Regions from separate parts of the Homo sapiens genome. Here region 1 is linked to region 2. Evidence: fine-mapped expression QTL. A gene starts in region 2. The other region holds a variant in brackets. All regions are shown on one strand. Distances are from middle to middle. Region 1 holds the start of LOC124907990 (a long non-coding RNA gene). Region 2 holds the start of SERPINE2 (serpin family E member 2).

Region 1 (11,014 bases), 30 kb before region 2:
GCTGTTATGGGTGTTTTTCTGGGTTTCTTGGACTTGGGAAGTTTTTGAGAGCTGTCTATGTACAGTTTCATAAAAGTGCACTGGGACAGTGTTAGAGCTGTGCAGAACTTGGAATCAGAGCTATTTTTGATTGATGTGCTGGGCAGAACTTCTCCTTGGCCTTGGTTTCCTAGGCCAAATGCTCACTCGTCTAAACTCACCTGGCTTATATACGTGTCTAAGAATAAGCTTTCATTTTTCTCCAAAGTTCAGTAGCCAGGAGAGTGGGTGTTGATCTATAAATTACTTTAGGCCTGCATAATTCCTAACAATGAAACACACTCATGTCCAAATAGACAATCGTTTACATGAAGTAACTTGGAGTTCTCAAGCTTTGAAATGCTTGATCTCTGGAACAAGCAGATGCCATAATGGGAAGTACATAGAAACCTCCTGTTTATTTTCCTTTTTAAGAGAAATTACACTTTAAACTTTCAAATCAGAGAGAAATAAGAGTGCTGCCCAAATGTACTGCATAGCAACAAGATGGAAGATTATCATTTGCTTGAATATTGTTTCACAACAGTAAAAATAGGTCTCTAGGCCATCATTGGAGGGAAGATCATAAGCCCATCAGTAGAGCCATCGCCACAGGCATATCCTTCCAAATGCCAGGTATCTCCTTCCCTATGTTCTTCTAGTTTCTCTTACTTCAAACCTTTCTCCTTTCCAATACGGGGAATGTTTATGAAATAGCTGGGTACTGCTTTGAGTTTTAACCATGATTTAACGTAGTAAATAATGGGATGGTAGTTTTGCAAATGCCAGACTCAAAATATAACCCTAACATTTATAAATAGACTGCTTGCCAATAGCAGACATTAGAGGAACCCACTCTCTATAGACCCAATGGCGTCAACCATCTCTTCTACACAGGTGATGCTCAAATATGCAGCTCAAATCCTCAAACTCTCTGCTGAATTGCAGTGCTATACTTTCAACAGTTTGCTACCTGTTTTCACTTGATCGTTCAGAAAAATTATCCACTGGTGGGGAGGGGTACTAGTCTCCAAAAATCTACCAACTCTTCTCTTTTTCAAGAATCATAGTTTCTGTTGAAAGAGCTTGCTTACCCAAGCCCGAGCCTCTGCTTCTCTCCCTTAGCCTCCACCTAGCAACAGTGACACTTCTACCCAACTCCTTCCACGGTGTGTGTGATGTTTTTCCTGATTGTTAAAGATGAGGTTCTTTATTCTCTTCTTTGAATTCCTATAGCATTTCCTATTTGCCTGTCTCATTTTAGTTGTTTTCCAAGTATGTTTTCTTTCCTCGCAAGTAGACTGGAAGCTCACGGAAAGCAGGGACTGTAGACTCCTGGTGCCCACAGGGTCAGTTTAGGGCCTTACCATTCATTGGTAGACACAAAATCAGAGGTTGACCCGTGGGACTAATCCAGCAAGTGTTTGATGTGCAATACAGAGTATTCTAAAAATATTTTTAGCAACTAAAAGTCAAAAAATGTCACAAGTCTAGATTAGGGTTATTCTCAGGAAAAATGAAAAAGAGTGGACGTTCTAGTACTACTGGACCCTCACCCCCATGGCAAATGTTCTGCACAGACGCCACCCCTTATGGGCTGGGCACCCACTTTCCAGCGTGCCTCGCTCCCGCTGCTCCCTGCTGCCTCACACCCTGCCATGGCCGCCACTGCCATCACCTCTCCAGGCTGTGTGAGCACCTGTGACGAGACCCCTTAGCCTGGAACCAGTGCTGAACAACTGAACAGTGGCAACTAGGATAGCCAGACACAAAACATGAAGCTCATTTTCTACCTAATAAATTCTTTTTATGAAATAAAAGTTTACATATAGTGCATGAACAAATGATAAATAATATGACACTAGTCTGCTCTATGTAGCATAATAAGTAAGTTGTAGGCAGACAGCTTGGTGGGAAAAACCACTGGAAAGACTCTTCTGGGTCCATTCATAGCTGGATGGTGCACACCTATTTTGGGAGGACACAGAAGCGTCTAATGAAGGAAAAGTTCTCCATGCTCTCTCATTCTCTATAAAAGGTTTAAAGTGATCATGTTTTATAAAACATACATATATTTTTAAAAACATTATATCATGGGAAATATCAAACATATGCAAATATTTAATACTCCCCCCCATACTCAACATCCAGAAAAAACAATTATTAACTCACGGCTTGGTTTATTTCTACTCAAATCAAAGATGATTTTGGAGTTAACTGCAGACATCATATAATATCATTCAAAATAATTTCAACATATAGACTCAGCCTAAGGATTTAAAATAGATATCCATGACATCATTATCACACCGCAAAATAACTCCTTAACATGTCAAATATCTAGTCCATGTTCGCATTTTTTATAGTATATTTGAATTACGATCTAAGTAAGCTCCATACATTGCAACTGGTTACACCTCTTGCCTTTGTTTTTTTGGTTGTTTGTTTGTTTCATCTTCCACTAGTTGCTTCATTTTTAACCTTGGAATTTTTTCTGTTGAAAAAAACAGGTTATTTGCCCTGTAGAGTTTCCCCAGGGTAGATTTTGCTAACTGCATTAATGTCATGCTGTTCAACAAGTTTCTCTGTCTTCTGTCCTTCCTGTAAACTGTTAGAGCTAGAGCAGGGGTCTGCAAGCTACGGCCCATGGGCCAGATCTGGCCACGCTTTTTTCTTTGTTTATGGCTGCATCTGTGCTATGATAGGGAGCTGAGCAGAGGTGCCCGGCTGCAAGAGAGACGGTATAGCCTGCAAAGCCAAAAACAGTTATTATGTGGCCCTCTACGTGAAAAGCCTGCTGACCCCAGCTGTAGGGACTGATCAGATTCAAGTCAATTTTCTCTTTTTGTAAGAATATTTTGTAGAGGTGCCGTAGAGGGTGGTGAAATCAGTAGACGGTAGCTGACTGTCTCTTTTTGTGGTGTTAGCAAGCTACTTATGATGACCGCCTAAGTGCACTGTTTTATTAAGAGTTACCAAATGTGGGTGCTGTTATAATTCTAACTTTCCTCCCTCACTTATTAATTAGAATATTTATATAAAAAGAAGTTTTCCATAATCAACTACTTGGTTGCCCTGAGGTTTATTTTGTGTTACAAGGGCAGGACAAATTCTTCATTCATTTCCCATATCCAACAGTTTTCAAAATAATTCAAAATAGGTTGATTGACCAGAGGGTTCTATTTTCTGTATCACTATAAACTCGTGTTTTTCAACATACTTTAAGGGTCTCGATCCACTGCAAATTTATTCTTATTGGTGCTCAAAATGAGCCTCTTCACACTCGTTCTTAAACCTTCTGATACAACCCTACAGTCTTGTTAGCCTCCTTGCTTTCCGGTTTGACTAGATGTTTAGGCTCATTTTATACATCTTCTGTTCCAGATGGAATCAGCCACTTCTCCAGGGAGCTCTGGTTCCTTTTAGTGAGAAACAGTAGCACTGAGCACCCTTATCTAATAAACCCTAAATGTTTTAAACTGTGGAAATGCTGAGCAACAGTGATAAGGAAAATCCAAAGTCCATTTACACCACTCTCTGGAATATATCCAAATACTGAAATTCAAATTATGAGAGCCAGACTGGTGACTGTTTCACACCGATGGCTCAAACATCACTGGAAAATCAAATTATGAAAGACCAGCTGCTGACACTGAACGGGTTTGCCTCCCATGGCCATCTAGACCGAGGGAGGCTCGCTGGATGATGACAAGATAAAGGAGTCTGCTGGGCATTAAAAGCTGGGCTGGGAGAATCAAAGTGGATTGCCCTCGTGTGACAGCAGCGAGCCTCCTGAATCAAGCCCAGCCTAAAAATGGAATCCTAACAGTGCAGATGCCAGCGACAAACAACCGACACACAGCACGGCAAGGTGAGTCCCCGGATTTATCTCAGCCTCTCCCCTCCCCGCCCCTCAGTGAAAGCTGACACCTTCTCAGGCACTGGGAAAGTCTCGCCATCCTTCTAGTCTCTGTGTTGCTAGGATCCTGGTTCTTGGAACCTAAGGCCCCTTATTAATCTACAGGGGCTACAGCAGGTAGAGAAAAACAGCAGGTATGTTTTGTCCGAATCATGACATCTCTCAACAGCTTTTCCTGCCAGGGCTTCCCAAAGAAATAAATGTACAGGCCGGGCACGGTGGCTCAAGCCCGTAACCCCAGCACTTTGGAAGGCCGAGGTGGGCAGAGTGCTTGAGGCCAGGAGTTCGAAACCAGCCTGGCCAACATGGCTTAACCCTGTCTCTATTAGAAATACAAAAATCAGCTGGGTGTGGTAGCACATGCCTATAATCCCAGCTACTCCAGAGGCTGAGGTGTGGGAATCGCTTGAACCCAGGAGGTGGAGGCTGCAGTGAGCCGAGATTGTGCTACTGCACTCCAGCCCAGGTGACAGAGTGAGACTCTGTCTCAAAAAAAAAACAACAACAAAACAAATGTACAGGCAAGGTTTGTGGCTGCCAAACTGAGACTTCTGAATGGCCTTAAGTAAAATCGTGCTGTCCAGCATTCAGACCAAACATTTCTCATCAGTACTTTGCCAACACTCAACGGTGTTTGGCAAGAGGCATTCTAGAAACTCTTCAGGAGGTGAGCCATGGAGATTAAGGCTGTCTCTGTAAGATGACAGTAATTGTTAATGTACAAGTAATCGGGGTTAAGCCTCACATATGGTCTCTGTCTCTCAAATCTGTATAAGCATTACTGAAATAATGTCCACCAAGACCTGTATTCATTTTCCAAACATCTACCACATTTTCTTATGATACCAAATCAGGTGAACAAGCAAACTAAAGTACATCTTGGTTATCCTTGGGAAGTGTACTAAGTACTAGCAAAATGACTCAGCATCTTTAAAATTTAGAGAACAAACA[G/A]GAAATGCCAACTTATCAAGGGGACAGCAGCTTGGTAGTTTTAAAATGTGTTTTTCAGGTTAGTGGAGAAAGACTTAGAGACATCTGAATTTTTTCTTAAATTTTTGTCTGCCTTCAAAGTGTATGCTCATTCTATGACACTAATTAATTTGGCCAAAAAGGAACCTAAAAATGTTTAGGAAATACCTTTTCAGCCGCTGAAAAGTATGGCAGCAACATCCAAATGGTCCCTTCAATGAAAAGACACATATTTTATTATAAAGTACACTCTGACATCAAGTGCCTTTTATCCATATATTATCCATTCTGAAATCTCTTTGGGTTGATGGGAAAAGGCTAGGGGGAAGGAGGGGATTAGAGCTTTGTTAGCAGTCTGTCTTTTAAAATTCAAGATTACAGGATATTCATTCTATTTTCCTCTAAGTTTCCGGGAAAATTCACCTAAAGTTCAAATTCCAATCCTACTACCCATTAACCAAGAGATCCAAGGCAAGTCACAATCTTCATCCGTCTTAGCTTTGTCCTCTGCCATATTAGAAATCATATCTCAAGGGTGGCCATGGAAATTCAATAGGTGCAAACTGAAAGACATAGTAACCAGCCTAATACCTGGCTCAGAGCAAGTGTTCAGTAAATGCTGGCTCTCTTCTTCTGGTCCTCTTCAATGCTCAAGACCTGAAATACTCTGATTTGTATTTCAGCAACCATTTAGAAAGTCTCAAGGATCAAGCTAAGAAAACAGTCAAACACTGCTACCTTGATAAAGCCTTGTCTGTATCTTTATAACTTCCTTAGACTATTTAAGACTCAGAAATAAATTAAGACAATGCTGGTGCGTTTTGCCGTCTCTGTAAGAGAACTGAGGGGTCCATTACTGTGGGAATGGAGGGGGAGGGGTGAGTATGTCCCAGAAAACCTTTAATAGTGCTGAGATATGTTTTTCGGTCTGCTGACTCAGATCATTAAATCTGGTTTACCTATGTATCAAGTCCTATAGACTTTTCTTTTTGATATGTCTTTAAGACGTAATGGTCCAAATGGCTGATTTCCTAATCCAGCAACCAAGAGGTGACCCAAGACATTATAGTGACATTGACCAATGGTTCTCAATCTTTAAAAACAAGGAAGTACCTTTTTAATTTCTCTCTTCAGCAAGAGACATGGAAGTACCTTTTTTAGACATAAAAAATATTACACATAGTTCATGACCATGTTTTTAGTATTGGTAAAAATACATAAAATACAACCATGAATTCTTAAACATGTCAATAAAATCCAAATTCTTTTTATCAGTACCTAGATACATTTTAAGAAATCATATTTTGAGATATTATTTATCAATCTATAATCAAAACTGGGCCATGAACATGATTTCTCTGATCCTTTAGAATAACCCTGATATGCCTATGGGCCTCCAATTCAGAGACGAGAAACTAACACTCTCTGGATTCTTGCCAATTAAAAAATGAGTGTCAAGTGTTAGAAATGTAAATTGATTTTTTAAAAATCTTTTTTAAAGGCAATCCCTAGTACGCATAAATAATCTTAATAATGTATCTATCTATTGGAACAGTAATACCCCTTCTATCAATCAATCCTAATGTGATAATAAAAAAGATTCAGGTCCAAAAATGTTTACTATTATTTTCAGTAGCAAAAGTATTGCAATATTCTCTGCAATAAATAATTGCAATAGCAATTATAATTGCAAATTAAATCTCCAATGGAGGGGACACTGTGGGTGACCTTTTACCAGCTTTGTGCACTTATCTCCTAGTTTTTATCTGCTTTGTTGCTAATGGTTTATACCTGTTACCTCGGTCAATTACTAGTGGGAGTTGAAGGCCACTTTCTTGGTTGGCCCTAAGTGGTTGAGAGTTCACAAACACCACTCCCTCCCTGAGGACTAACAGCCATTGACTACTGGTCTGCTTGTTAACTGACTCTCCAGAGCTCCCCATGAGCTCTGAGTGTGGGACTTCACCTGGTATTTCTTGCTTGGTTTCTTCCCTTTCTAATTCCCACTTCTCCCCTTCCCTTACTATTTCAACTGGGAGCACTTCCTAATGAATCACTTGCACTTTATGCTTGGCTCAGGGATTGCTTCTGGGAGAACATAACCTAAAATGTCCAACAATAAGGAACAGTTAATGACATCCATCCAACACAATATCCTTTGGCTGTTAAGAACCTATCTCTGAAGAAAACTTAAAGACATGGTAATACATTCTGGATATATCTTAACTGGAAAAAAGTATGGTATAATTAACTATGTAAAAATTATACACAGGCACAAATTAGCCAGGTGTGGTGGCGGGTGCTTGTAGTGCCAGCTACTTGGGAGGCTGAGGCAGGAGAATGGCGTGAACCCAGGAGGCAGAGCTTGCAGTGAGCCGAGATCCCACCACTGCACTCCAGTCTGGGCGACAGAGCGAGACTCCATCCCAAAAAAAAAAAAAAAATTATACACAGGCACAAAAAAAGACTAACAGGACAGATATTAAAATATCTATATAGTTATTTCTGATGGTGGGAATATGAATATTTATTATTCTGTATACCGTTATGTAGCCTTCAAAATTTCTGTAATGAAATCACCACTTATAACAAGCATCCCTTTTCCTTTTATCAGGAACTGAGACTCTGGAATAGCTGAAATGTGTTCTAAAGGGGAGCAGAGAAGGTTATGGAGCACAACAGTGGCTAAACCAAAGGATCATAAAACTTTAATAAAAATGGTATTTACTGGAAAAGGAGAAAGAGTTGAGAAATAATAAAGTGGAATCTTTTTATATACACTAAGATGAATGTTACACCCCATTACAACCCACAGACCATTTCATGTTGAGTTTTTTCAGTAAATGGTGGTGTTATTTTGGTGAACATGATTTGACCTATGTATGTGGCCAAATCTACATATTAGATATTTAATGGTGGGGATTATGACTTAATTTTTTTATTCTCTGTGTTTAGCATAGTACCTGGTATATAGTAGTAACTCAATATATGTTGGGTTTCCTTGCCTTTCTCCCCGGCTCACTGAAATAGGAACGTGGGAGCTGCTGAGTTCCTGCCTGATAAAACCCCATATCCTCCATGAACACTGCCAAAGTGGTGCTCTCACAGCCTAGAAAAGGCATCTCTGTTTATCCATAAGGCATGGACTCTCCTTGTGAGAAAAAGAGGGCCTCCCAGCAGACAGGACAGGCCCTCCTTCAGGTGGCCTTTCTGGGGTGACTTGCACAGGGCGGTTTGGAGACCTAATGCAGTGTTCACTTGCACTTTCCCTCTAGCTGGGTCCTGCTCCCTTTTCACGAGGAAGAGGAGGGAAGCAGGGGTTTGGGCTCCGTTTTGCTTAGCTAAGCAGGTAACTGGATAAAATTGGTTTAGAAAGCTCCCAGGGAGTAAGAACAGTGGTTGTAAGAATAATTTAGATTATATATGAATGTTTTAGGTTTTTCTCTCAGTGGCTGGCTGTTCTGTTTCCTGAACCTGAATGATAGAGCTGGCTTTGGCTTAGGAAGAAAAAGGCAGCCTGTAAGGAGTGACCAGGCGGTAGGTGGGGAGGACTGGTAATGTCATCCACGGTTCCCTACTGCTGCTTTGTGGGTTTCAGGAGGTGCACCGTGTCAGGAGGCTGGGGCTCCTCTATTCCTGCAGAGGAACAGCTGCCCAGTCACTCAGCCTGGGGTTCACACCTTCCGCAGTGCTTGTTGCAGGAGGTTCAGTGTAGTGTGTGCATGTCCACCTCCAGCTGCCAAACTTCTCAACAGGATGTAGATGAACCTGGGCTGACAAATTGGATAAGGTGGGCTGGCAGGCCAAAGCTTCAATTACCAGTACCACATCCTTTCCCTTCTAGGATACACAAAAGTAACTGGCCTCATTCCTTCCTCTCCCAAATAGAGAAGCCTTGGCTTGAAAATTCCAGGGAGTGGCCATGCGAGGTGGCTCATGCCTGTAATCCTAGCCCTTTGGGAAGCCAAGGTGGGTAGGTCACTTGAGGTCAGGAGATCGAGACCATCCTGGCTAACACAGTGAAACCCCATCTCTACTAAAAATACAAAAATTAGCCAGGCATGGTGGCGCACACCTGTTATCCCAGCTGCTCAAGAGGCTGAGGCAGGGGAATCACTAGAACCGAGGAGGCAGAGGTTGAAGTGAGCCAAGATCATGCCACTGCACTCCAGCCTGAGCAACAATCAAGACACTGTCTCAAAAAAAAAGAAAAAGAAAAAAAGAAAAATTCCAGGGAGAACCACTAGGTAAATTGGTATCAATGCAGTCATTGCATTGATGAGAAACAGTCTAGGACTTCAGACGGAGACTCTGATTCTAAACTAAGGAAAGTCAGAGGGAAAGTCAGAGGGATCATTGTGTGGCGCCTGGGGCGAGAGTGGGAATGTGTGTTCTCTTGTGCCCTAGAGCAGGCTTTCTTTATCTCGGCACTACTGACATAACTCTTCAGTGTGGGGGCTGTCTTGGGTACTGCATAAGGAAACCCATATCCACCTGAATACAGAAGACTCTAGATTCTCCTGGGTCTCAAGTGCCCAACAAAACCCACTTTGTTCCTTTGAAGTCAGGGTAGCATTTCCAAGGCTGCCGTGTAAACAAGTGTCCCCTATTAAGTTGGTTTATCCCTTAATTTATCCTACAAATATTAATGAAGCACCACAGTGCCAGGCCTGGCGCTGGGATGCTAGAGAGAGAATAGGCATGAAAAGGGGCTTGGTACCTGCCCTCCCACCTCTCAGAGTCTCAAGGCATGGTTCTCCACCTGGGTGACTCTGTCGCTCAGGGAGCATTTGGCACTATCTGAAGACATTTTTTTTGGTTTTCACCACTAGGTGGGGGCCAGGGAGGGTGGTGCCATGGCATCTGGTAGGTGGGGGCCAGGGAGGGTGGTGCCGTGGCATCTGCTAGGTGGGGGGAGGCCAGGGGTGCTGCTGAGCAGCACCCACAATGCACAAGACAGCCGCCTGCAACAAAGAATTATCCAGCGAAATGTCAGTAGTGCCAAGGTTGGGGAAGCCTGGTCTAGAGGGGAAACAGACCTTAATCAAATCGTCTTATTACTTGATATTTACTTTCATTTTCACGTATTTACTTTACAAATGCTCTGACATCGAGGAGAGTGTGTAAGAATGGAAGCAGAGGCACACCTGGGCCAGGGTGAGAGGCAGTGGCCAGGGAAGTGCTCCTGGGAAGGGCCACATGGGCAGACATTGGAGGATGGACTGGAAGTGACTGGACAAAGGGGCGGAGAGATGGAAGCAAGGAAGAGTATTCCAGACAGAAGCTCTCAAGTGCAAACAAACCTTGTGTTGGGAGGTACCATGGATTATTCTGGAAATATTTTTCCTTTCATACCATCATCACCTTACAGCCTTTGCAAGACAAGGGCAACTCTGTGTCCATGACTCCAACAAATAGGCAGCTCATCAAGACATACTGCAGAACCCAACCGGACAGAAACTGGAAGAATCATTCACACTCCAGTGTCTATCTTGTTCCATGGCTCTCTTTCTCACCACCCGGCACTGCGCATGACAACAGGCAGGAATCAAAACCCTAAGTTGACATTAAAAGCCTGAGTTTCATAAAACGAAAAACTGATAAACTGAAAAACTGATCAATTGGACCTCATCAAAATGAAAAGTTTTACTCTGCAAAAGATCCTGCAAAGATGATGAAGAGACTAGGAGAAAATATTCTCCAATCACGTATCTGTCAAGGGACTAGTATCTAGACTACACAGAAAACTCTTAAACCCCAACTGTAAAAAAAAATCGGATTAGGAAATAAAAGACATGGATAGATATTCCATTAAAGAGGATGTATAAATGGTAAATACGTCCATTAAAAGATGTTCAACATCATTAGCCACTGGGGAAATCCAAATTTTTAAAACCACAATGAGATGTCACTATATGTCCAGATGAATGGCTAATACTAGTGACAACACCAATTGCTGGTGAGGATGCAGAGAAACTGGATCACTCACACATTGCTGGTGGGAATATAAAATGGCACAGCCGCTCTAGAAAACAGTTTGGTAGGTCAGGTGCAGTGGCTCACGCCTGTAATCCCAGCACTTTGGGAGGCCGAGACAGGCGGATCACC
Region 2 (11,014 bases):
CCAAACTTGTGATATGACATGGCCACTCCTTTAGAGTCAGGGATTTAAGCCCAGATCAAGAGGGAGCCATTGAATTTTATTAGGAGGGACCCAAGAAGACTTGGATTTGGGGCAGCAGGAGGAAAGTCACACCAGCAATAACATGGAAGAGAGTTAGAAGGGATGCAACATGAGGTGCACGACACTGTGCAGTAAGCACTAGGCATTCCCAGGCTGTCGATGATCGTCTCAGCCTAGGGTCTCTAGCTCTGAAGCCCATGGGAGCCAGAACGCCACTATAAGCAAGGGTCACAGGTCTGGGGGAACCAGAAAGCAACCTACCTCCAGTGTATTCAGGCACTGGAAACCCAGCAGCAGCTGAGGTTTGCCACATGGGAATGTAAGCTTCCTATTCCAGGTTTTTTTTGTTTTGTTTTTGTTTTTGTTTTGAGACAGAGTCTCACTCTTTCACCCAGGCTCGAGAACAGTGGCGCCATCTCAGCTCACTGCAACCTCTGCCTCCCGGGTTCAAGCGATTCTCCTGCCTCAGCCTCCCGAGTAGCTGGGATTATAGGCGCAGCTAATTTTTGTATTTTTAGTAGAGACGCGGTTTTACCATGTTGATCAGGCTGGTCTTGAACTCCTGACCTCAAGTGATCCGCCTGGTTCAGCCTCCCACAGTGCTGGGATTACAGGTATGAGCCACCACGCACTGCCTCATCCAGGTCTTCTGGCTTTTAGGAGAAGCTATACATCCAAGTGGCATCTCCAGATTTCTAAATATTAACTCAAGTTGTATATACTTTGTTCAGGCCAACAACACTGCTGCCTACTGCTAGAAGTGGCACACCGGCCACCATTTTGCCACTTTTGGGCTCTAAAGCAAGGCAAGGCCAGCGTGACTAGAGCGGACCTTTGTGGAATTTCACAGCATGAAGAAGCAACAGGATCTGGTGACAGCCTGCATGTGGGCAGTGCGGGAGCCTGGCATCACCGTGAGACCCCTGCTCCAACATCTCCATGAACGGTGGAACCACTGCCAAAAAAAAACGGACAAATCTTCGCTAACAATGAAGCGGATATGGGGTGGGTGGTGAAAACTAAAATCAATTTTGGATTTATTTTGGGGTGTTTTTTTGGCCTAAAGGGCACGGGTAAGCGCACCAGACTGCAGGTAACTGATTGGAACACAGGAGCATGCTCAAGCTAGCTTAACATGCCAATCTGGGACTCGCTTCATATTGGTGAGAGTCGAAGCTGTGGGAACATGGTTCACCCAAATACACAGAGCACAAAAGGGATGACAGCGAACCCTGGGTAACCCCAAGAGGTAGCAGAGATGCCAGGGAGGAATAAGGAAAACCAGAAGGTGGCAACCAGGGATGGAAAAAAAAAAAAAAACCATCAGAAAGGAATAGAAGAACCTCATCAAATGCCACGGAGAAACCTAGTGGGTATCCATAAGATTGCTTGTTCAGATGAGAACACAGGGACACAGGGAGGGAAACATCACACACTGGGGCCTGTGGTGGGGGGCGGGGAGTGAGGTAGGGGAGGGATAGCATTAGGAGAAATACCTAATGTGATGGGTTGATGGGTGCAGCAAACCACCATGGCACGTGTATACCTATGTAACAAACCTGCACGTTCTGCACATGTACCCCAGAGCTTAAAGCATATTAATAAAAATTAAAAAAAAAAAAAAAAGATTGCTTGTTCAGGAAGTCACAGGCCTTGAACTTTGAGGAGACTCTGGCCAGCTTGCAAAGAGCTGAACAGGAAGGGCAGACCAGTTTAAGAAGCCTGGAGAGACGTGGTTGTCACTACAGGTGAGCTGAGGATGCAGGGACAAGGGAGGTTAAGGCATTCTTAAAATACTACTAAAAAAGAAAAAAGCTCACAGGGAGAGACTGAAGATAAAAGTAAGAAAAGGGAGTAACACTCACAAGGAGAGAGAGGCACTGGGAGTTGGGATTCAGGACACAGCTGGAGACATTAGTCACTGCCCCAAGGAGGCCATCTCTCTATATTTCTCTAAGTTCTCAGTCTAACTTGATTTTTCTTTATAATTCTACCTTATTCATTTATCATACATTTTACAACATATTATGTTTGCTTTTAGTTGGTTTTCTCCCACAAGAATGACAGTTTCAAGCGAGCAAGGATCTGCTCTATTTACCACCTATGAGTATCCAACAAAGTACCCAGACACAGTAGATGCTTAAGAAGATTTATTGGATGACTGGGTAAACACAGAAAAGTCTGTACAGGGGAGATGGGGGAGGACGTGAGGAGATACTTATGACCTCTATTCTCCTGGTAGAATGGGCTACAAAGTCACCTGCCAAACCCGCAAGAGGAAAAGCATTGGAGATCGCTTGCATTGAAGATTACAGTGGGAGTCCGGTTTGCAACCCGGAAGGAAGGAGCTTGCGGGTTGGAGGCACTAAGAGTTTTCAGAAGTTGAGCATCTCAAGAGAGGGCAAGACTTGGAGGTACTTAGAGGACTTGGTAGCTGGAGTACATGGAAGACACTGGATTTGAGACAGTCAAGGAAGTGCGCATCTAGAGCGTCCCCCACATGGACTTTAGGTCTAGAGGAGGAGAAATAGCCCAAGAGCCAAAGTCCCCATGCGATGGGAAAAGAACTGGCTGGAAGAGGACAGCAAGGCTGAGATGCACCCAGGGACGTGGCCAGGTCACCACCTCATTTCCAACTCTACCACCTCAAACAATCTCTGACTGGTATTTAATCACCCTTGTGTGGAAGTGAAAATTAGCTTTTTTTGGAGACAGTACTTTTAAAATTAAACTAATATGAAGTTCATGGGACACGGAAATTTTCTGCATAGATTCATTTTTGTTTTTAGAATAAAATACGATGACATTTTCATGACCTTCAGTAATTGCCCTGCATGGTACGATATTTTCAAACATTATTTTAACAAAGAATCAAAATTTGGGGGTTAAAAGAAACCTTAGATTACTCAGGTTAGTACCTTCATTTGCATAGCCAAAAATTTTTCTATTGAAATACTGCAAATAGCAAATAAGTACTGATTTAGACCTTCAGATAGTGTTGAAACTGTCTTCAATTTTCGAAGTGTGGTTTAGGATATACAAATTAGCAATGTTGACAATTCTTCCAGTTATCTGTGCTCAAGTTTTGATATAAAATCTTCAAAGTACACAATTATCACATATATTGTTCCACAACAATTCAGACAAATAAACGGCTTCTTGGCTTGAAAGAGGAAGTCACACCTTCGAACACCTTTTTATGCTGATGCTAAATATAAGAACGTCCCCTGCAAAGTAGCCAAAGCAAGACAGCAGCATTCGAGATTTCTCCAGAGACACACACACAAAGAATGTGTTTCGTTCATTAAAACACTAAAACCTTCAACAGCATCTTCCATAATACCTGAAGGTGGAGTGCTGTCTTATGTAATAGAAGCCTTCCTTCCCCGCTCAGTTTGTGGACACATTAAATGCCTAATTCCTTCCAGAATTTCTGAGTACCGTACTTTCATTTTACCTGCAGTCACTCATCCGCCTCGCAACTCCCGTTTCTACAGATGATGAAAATAGCAAAGACCTGCTCGCTCGGGTTAAATCGGCTGCCAGAGGCCAAGTTAAAGGCTTTCCCCACACCGCGCGTCACCTCCCTCTGCCCAGGCAGAGGTAACAAGTAAGAGTGCGCCAGTCTCTCCCCATCCGGCGGCGCGCAGCCTAAGTCCGGGGTAGGGGTTGCCGGCGAGCAGCTGGAAACCTCAGGTTCAGGGTCAGGGCCGGCTCGGATGGCCGGGCAGGAGCCACGCCGGCCCCGGTGCTCCCAGCTGCGGGTATCACTGGACGCCACCCCGGGGCGGCCCCGCCTTGCCCTGCCCGGGTCCCGCTCGGGGCTCCCGGCGGGCGGGACCGGGATGCCCGGCGAGCACCCAGCCCCGGCCAAGGCGGCCCGCGGGAGGCTGAGAAAGTTCTCTGCTCCCCGACGTCGGCGCCCCAGGGTCCCGCTGGCCCCGCAGCTTCCCGGCCGGGCGCAAGGTCAGGGAGCAGGGCCGGTGGCGCGCGGAGCCCCGGGGAGCGTCCCCCGCCGAGGGCAGCGCCGGCCGCGCCCGGGACTCACCGCGCAGCCTGTACTCACCGCGCTCGCTGGATCCCCAGGGGGCGGCCGCGGAGGGCGGTGCGGCCGCAACCGGAGCGGGAGCCTGGTCTCGGCGGCGCGGGGAGTCGGAGGACGCAGCCAAGCGGCGGCGGCGAGGAGGGTCACAGCCGGAAAGAGGCAGCGGTGGCGCCTGCAGACGCCGCGCAGCCCGGGCAGCCCCACAGCGCAAGCTGGCTGCCGCGGCGGCGGGGGCTTTATCGGCGGCGCCGCGCGGGCCCCCGCCCCTTCCTGCCGCCCCCGCCCCCGGCCCGCCTTGCCCCGCCTTCCCGCCGCCTCCTTTGTGTGGCCGCGGGCCGCAGCGTCCCCGCGCCCGGCCTCCAGGACGCCCCCTCTCCGCCTGCGACTTCTCGGATGCCGCCCCGCCAGGGGTCCGTGTCGTGGGGCTGCGCCCGGAACGCGCCGGGGAGACGCGCAGACCCCGAGGTGCGGCGCCAGCCCGGGCCCAGCTGCACGTGGGTCTCCCGGATGGGGGTGTGTGAGGTGGCGGGGGGAATACCAGGGCTCGTACCGCGTCCCTGAGACGCAGGGCATGTCGTCTTGGCTGCCCCCTGGAAGAGACAGAGGGCGCCCTGAGACAGCGCTCAGTCCTCCGGGTGATGGGGAAACGGTGCCAGGACGCGGCCGGGAAGGGGCAGATAACCCCTCGAGGCGTTTTGCAGGGTGTCCTAGAGCTGACTTCTCCCTGCCTAGGGGACAGAGGAACGGCGGCAAGTCGCCTTAGGCAAATACAGACGAGGGGAACCAGAAAACTGGATTCCCGGCTATGGTGATAGCATGAGGTACCCGCAGCGTCCTGGGAACCCAGCCCTTCTCAGCCGGTAACCACTGCTGCTGGGACCCGGTGCGCGATAGACAGGCACATACCCCAGGGGCCTGCAACAAATGACCGTCCCGCTCCGGGCTCTGTTACCTGGACCTCTCTTAGTTGGTTCCTCCTTTGCCTCTAGTTAGGTTTCTGGGGACCCAAGGACCCAACTTTAATGACAGTAATTTATGTAGCCGTTAGTGTAGAATCGTCGCTAGCAGGCAGACGGCCCCAACAGCGAGGAAGAAATGTAAATCTCCCTATACACAGCCCTGGATTAAGGGTACAGCTACTGATGAGAGCCACTTGGAAGATCAGCCTGCAGTCACCCCTTGGCATGCAGGTGGCCGTGCCAGAGTGTGCACGTGTGTGTTGGGGAAGGGGTTGCTCTGAAAAGTGTAAAATCTGGACCAGCCTAAGGGTGTTCTCAGTCTCTCATAGAGGGAAACAGGCTATGGGAGGCTTGGTCCTAAAATAAGGAGCAAACAGTCTACAAAAATGAGCATCTGTTTAATTATTTTACAGTCATACCAAATATTTATATTCAGTTACAGGGTAACTTTCTTATTCTCTGTGCCTGAAATGCTTTTTGTCCCAGGATCTTCTATGTTGTCTGCATCCTTACACTTGAGGTCACAACTCAAATGTCCTCTCCCCTAGGAAGCCTCCCCTGACCACTTGAGATAAAGTCACTTTATCCCCTCTAACCTATGACTTCCTTCATAACCCTCATCATGAATTGATTTTTTTTTTACCTTGTTTCTTGCTAGTTTTCTTCTACTCTCTCTCATTGGAATATACTCCCAGAGACCAGGGAAGAGAAACTAATTTCAATATTGTTTCCAACTCACTCTATCCCTAGTGCCTAGAGCCATACCACACATATAGCAGTTACTCAATAAATTTTGTTGACGAGTGGATGAACTACTAGCCAAGTGACTTTTAGACATGCTAAGAACTGTTTCAGTGACAGTATTGTGCTTGGTCCAGTCAGGGCGGTGTGGGCTGGAGCTGGGAACAATTCAAAGGAGGGGGGAAAGCCCACAGGTGTGAATGAGCTCGTTCAGTGTGTTTGAAAAGCTGGGAGTATCCTCTTCCAGATGGAAGGGAGTCATTCAAGAAACTACTGGAGAAATAACTGGGAAATGTGGGTGAAGCCAGATTATTATGAAAATGTGCCAGAATCCCTGCATCCATTTCTGTCTCAATCACATTTCTAAATTAAAATTTGTAATAGAGGTAATTGTAGGCTGGCATGCAGTTGTTAAGAAATGATTCAGAGAGGTCTCTTTTACACTTTGCCAAGTCTTCCTCATGGTAACATTTTGCAAAACCATTGTATAATATCACAATCAGGATATTAACATTGATACGTTGATTCCTATCTCACACACTTTGGTTAATTATGTGTAACTTTAAATTTTTACTAAAGTTACTCAAACCAGTGAGAGAAATGCACAAAATTACTATTTTGAAGAGTTTCAGTCTCTTGTCTTGAAGGAGCCAATGTTTTTCAAGAAAAAACAACAACAAGCCTTTTTTGCTTTCCCAATTAGAGTGTAAATAGGGTCCAAATTCTTCATCTATGAAAGACGTTAGAAGTCCTTAGGACTTACCTCTTTGGGTTACACTTTAATGACTGACATTTACTTCCCCATTCTTTCCTGTAGTGTCGAAGGAACATTTTGAGCAATACTGTACGTGACTTGTCAATTCTGAAATCACAGTGGATGCAGTGCTAACTAATATGCTAAAGTAAGCCTAGACACTAATGTTCCCTTCTCTCTCGCTAGACATGCGATGAGGCCAACGATGAGGTCTCCCAAAGGAAAGTGATTGAAGACAAAGACCCATTCTGCCAGTGGGATATGCTGGGAATACCAACTATACTTGTTACTGAGTGTGCATGGCTGGTGTTGGCCAGCCTTCCTGATGCCAGCAAGAGGAGACAGAAGTAATGACCCAAGCTACACTTTCCATGACACTCAAATGGCCAGGCTCTTTGACACCCACCGTGAGGGGCTGTTCCAAAGATGTTGTGTTCCTACCTCAGTTGGTCCCCACAAGCAGCAGGTTCCTCCTCCAGTATTCTCCAATATTTGACCCTTTTTGAGATGCATTTCTCATAGATGTGTACTTCCAATCCACATTTCCTTCCTACCTCTACCTCGGTTTTGTTTGAGAAATCCAAATCATTTAACACTTCTACCTGCTGTTTCTTTGTGACTTCACATTCACAGTGAAATTTCATTTTGTCCTGCAATTGTGTGGCTTGCCTTAATCCGCAAATAGAGCTTCAAATTGTTTATTCCTTTGACCTGGAGTTTAGCCAGCTCCAGCTAGGCTCTGAGTTTGGCTTTGTGTCCATAAGCCACAGTTGGGAGAAATGCAAGAACTGCCCAAACAGAATAAAACAAATGATCTATTTAGTCTTGTTTCCTCTCTTGGAAGAAGTCCAGCGTTGAGTGCCTTGGAATAAATGAAAATCCCCCACCCCACCTCCACTGCTCTCCCATGCACCCAAACAGTATGACCTTGTGTTTAAGTAAAAACCGTCCTTAGCTCCCAGTGGGATGATGGTGTTTTGTCTGGAAGACTGACGGATGTTATGATAATAAGATAATGGATACTCACTTCTCTCCTATCTAACCCCTATTTAAAAGACATTACACCGTAACAGTGCTTGTTACGCAATATTATAGTTGCAAATGTTGTTATGGAAGATTGTTTCAACCAGGGGAAAAGAGACTGGTAATAACAGTACACTTATACAATTAGTTTCTGAAACTGTTGCATTGCTTTGGGGTTTTTTTTTTTAGCTTAGAAAAGACATTTATCTTTTTATTTCCCTTTAAAGTTGGCTTTCAAATAAATTCAATTTCCTCTTTCTGTAACTTCTGAAACAGATTAAACCAGAGCATCAGTTTGCACTTTGCTATTGTCGTCACTAGTTTTCACCAAGAGCTTCAGAGAAAAGACATTACTAAGTGCTGGGCTGGGTATTATTTTCTACTTATATGTGACCAAATAGGATGTAACAGCCAGGTTCTGAGAGTCGTTGTGATACTGACCCCTTCAAACAACAGCCCAGCTGCTCTCCTTCCTTTTACCACCAAACAATAGATGCTGCCTCCCTTTTTCCATGGGTCTCTTCGGTCAATCTTCTTACCCCATCATCGGGCTCCCCTCCTTTTCTTCCTCGCTTCCTCGGGCCCTCCTTCTCTCCCAAATGTTACCAATAGCTTCCAATGGCAACCCCAGTAGTTTTTCAACATTCTTTATCACCTTTGAGTCCTTGGCAGGATTTCACTCTCATATGTGTGCCCATTTTTTGGAAACTCCTTTGCCTATTTTCTCTCTTCCTATGCCTTAACTTGCCTTTATCCTTTTTCCATCAAATCTTCCAACAGGTGGGCACCATGCAGTTGACTGTCCTCAGCTCCCTCCTCTTTTCTCCACACTCTCTCCCAGTGGAACGAACATTGATTTATCTGTGGCCACCAACACTTGTTCCCCTCCTCACCTTTTGATAGTGGAAACACCTCTTCTATTTTATGCAGCATTTTGTTGGGAAGGAAATCAAGGTATCCTTACTTTCACTAGCCAAGGGATGGGCATATGACCAAGCTCACTGGATTCCCTCCCAGTTCTTTGAATCTTGAAAAGAATGAAAAAGTAATTGCAGCTGACTTATCTCAGCTTGATGAATGATGAATTTGTGAGTTCTTCCTACCCGGACCTCAGAGCTGCCATAGACCCTGTCCCGTCTGAGCAGAGGTCCACAGTGAACTCTGTTTCTGTGAGACTTTTCTACTTGTTAGCCAGATTCAGTTTCTGTTGCCAGCAACCTAGGATGCCTAACTGACATACCTTAAATGTCTGTAACTTTGCTTAGTTCTGGATGAATTCTAAGCCCATATCTACAGATGGCCTTGGCCACCATCCCAAGGTACCACTCATCTATCTCCAAGTGCCTGGCAGACACCTCCACTTAATATCCCACCATCACCTCCCACCTAACAAGTCAAACCCACTTATTATCTTCATCCCCCAACCAGTTCTTCCTCCTGTGTTCCATGTGTTTTACAGACATGACTTCCATCTCAGTCACCAAAGCACAAAGATGGGAATGAATTCTTTCTTTCTTTCTTCTTTCCTTCCTTCCTTCCTTCCTTCCTTCCTTTTTCTTTCTTTCCCTCTTTCTTTTCTTTCTTTCTTTCTTTCTTTCTTTCTTTCTTTCTTTCTTTCTTTCTTTCTTTCTTTCTTTCTCTTTCTTTCTTTTTCCCTCCTTCCTTCCTTCCTTTCTTTTTGAGACAGAGTGTCACTCTTGTCACCCAGGCTGGAGTGCAGTGGCATGATCTCAGCTCACTGCAACCTCTGCCTCCCGGATTCAAGTGATTCTCCTTCCTCAGCCTCCCAAGTAGCTGGGATTACAGGCGTGCACCACCATGCCTGGCTACTTTTTTGTATTTTTAGTAGAGAGGGGGTTTCACCATGTTGGCCAGACTGGTCTCGAACTCCTGACCTCAGGCAATCCACCTGCCTCAGCCTCCCAAAGTGCTGGGATTACAGGTGTGAGCCACCGCACCCAGCCCCTTTTCTTTTTTTTATTCATCCCATTTCCAGCAATTCCTTAGGTGCTGTTAGTAGTTTTTAAATTTTTTCCCCCAAGTCCCTCTGAGTCACCCCTCTTCCATTTTTTCAAGTCAGTTCAAACTCTTACCACTCCAATAGCACCCTAACTATTCTCTCAGCTTCCAGATTCTATCTGTAACTGCCAGCTTAGTCTTTCTAAAGTGCTTTTTCGGTCATGCCACTCCCCAGCTTAAAATAATTCCACTGTTCATCACGAAGGTTCCGATTCCTTGGTTTAGTCAGTCTTCTGTAGAGGTTATGAACACAGGCTCTGAAGTTAGATTGCCTGTGTTCAAATCCCAGTCTCATCACTACGCAATTTTTTTCAAGTAATTTAACCTGTGAGCCTCAGTGTCCATTTTGTAAAATGGGGGATAATAATAGAATAACCCACTCATAGGGCTATGTGAGGATTGTGTAGTTAATTCATGAAAAGAACTGAGTATTTGACACATAAATGCTTAATAAAAATTTACTACAATGAAAGCTCTCTACAATTTAACCCCAACCCACCTTTCTTGCATTATCTTTTCATTTTCTCTATGTTCTTAAAGGCTTTCCCAATCAGAATTACTCACCTATATCAAAATTGTATTTTTTATGTCATCATGCCATTGTTTAAACCATTCTCTCTGACCTGAATACCCTTTTCTTACTCCACCTGTATCAGTTATCTAGTGTTGCATTACAAACTATCTTTTTTTTTTTTTTTTTTGAGACAGAGTTTCTCTCTTGTTACCCAGGCTGGAGTGCAATGGTGTGATCTCAGCTCACTGCAACCTCCACATCCCAGGTTCAAGCGATTCTCCTGCCTCAGCCTCCTGCTTAGCTGGGATTACAGGCGCCTAACACCACCCCAGCTAATTTTCATATTTTTAGTAGAGACATGGTTTTGCCATGTTGGCCAGGCTGGTCTCAAACTCCTGACCTCAGGTGATCTGCCTGCCTCAGCCTCCCAAAGTGCTGGGATTATAGGCATGAGCCACCACGCCCGGCCCTACTATCCCAAATTTTAATGGCTTAAAATAACAACCATTTTATTTGTTTGTGATGGTATGGGTTGGATGGGCATGGTTTGGCTGGGATGGTTCACTCTGCTCCACCTCCTGTTGTCTGACCTCACTCTTGCAGCCGTAGGACTCCAGGTGGCCTCACTCATGCATGTGGACTCTCAGAGAGAAGGGCTGGAACCCTCAGTCTTCTCTCTCTAGTTTTTCATCTTCACGGGCCTTTTTCACCTTGTTATATTTCAAGCTCTAAGGCTTTCCTACATGGTTTTTCCAGCAGTAGTCAGGCTTTATAGGATGGCTGAGGACTTCAAGGTGGGGAAAACAGAAGCCTCAAGTTCTATGAAGGATTAGCCTTGGATCTGGCACAATACCACTTCTGCGGTCACAATTCAGAGCAGGTCACAGGGCTATCTCAGA

What was found.
Region 1: its variant is fine-mapped to the expression of SERPINE2 in whole blood (INTERVAL, PIP above 0.99). The same link has a PIP of 0.9 or more in blood mononuclear cells.

What each region holds. Positions count from the first base shown.
Region 1 is chr2:224,005,269-224,016,282 of GRCh38, forward strand. The region is part of intron 1 of SERPINE2 (serpin family E member 2); the gene reads right to left. It overlaps LOC124907990 (a long non-coding RNA gene), which reads left to right and starts at 3,609. Exons shown (of 2, transcript XR_007088102.1): 1 at 3,609-3,889. RefSeq lists enhancers at 4,030-5,229, 4,154-4,729, 9,820-10,319. The variant G/A (reference allele first, on the strand shown) is at 4,889.
Region 2 is chr2:224,034,973-224,045,986 of GRCh38, forward strand. SERPINE2 (serpin family E member 2) reads right to left here and starts at 4,314. Exons shown (of 9, transcript NM_001136528.2): 1 at 4,127-4,314. It overlaps LOC124907991 (a long non-coding RNA gene), which reads left to right and starts at 4,430. Exons shown (of 2, transcript XR_007088103.1): 1 at 4,430-4,570; 2 at 6,746-7,520. RefSeq lists a silencer at 4,480-4,774.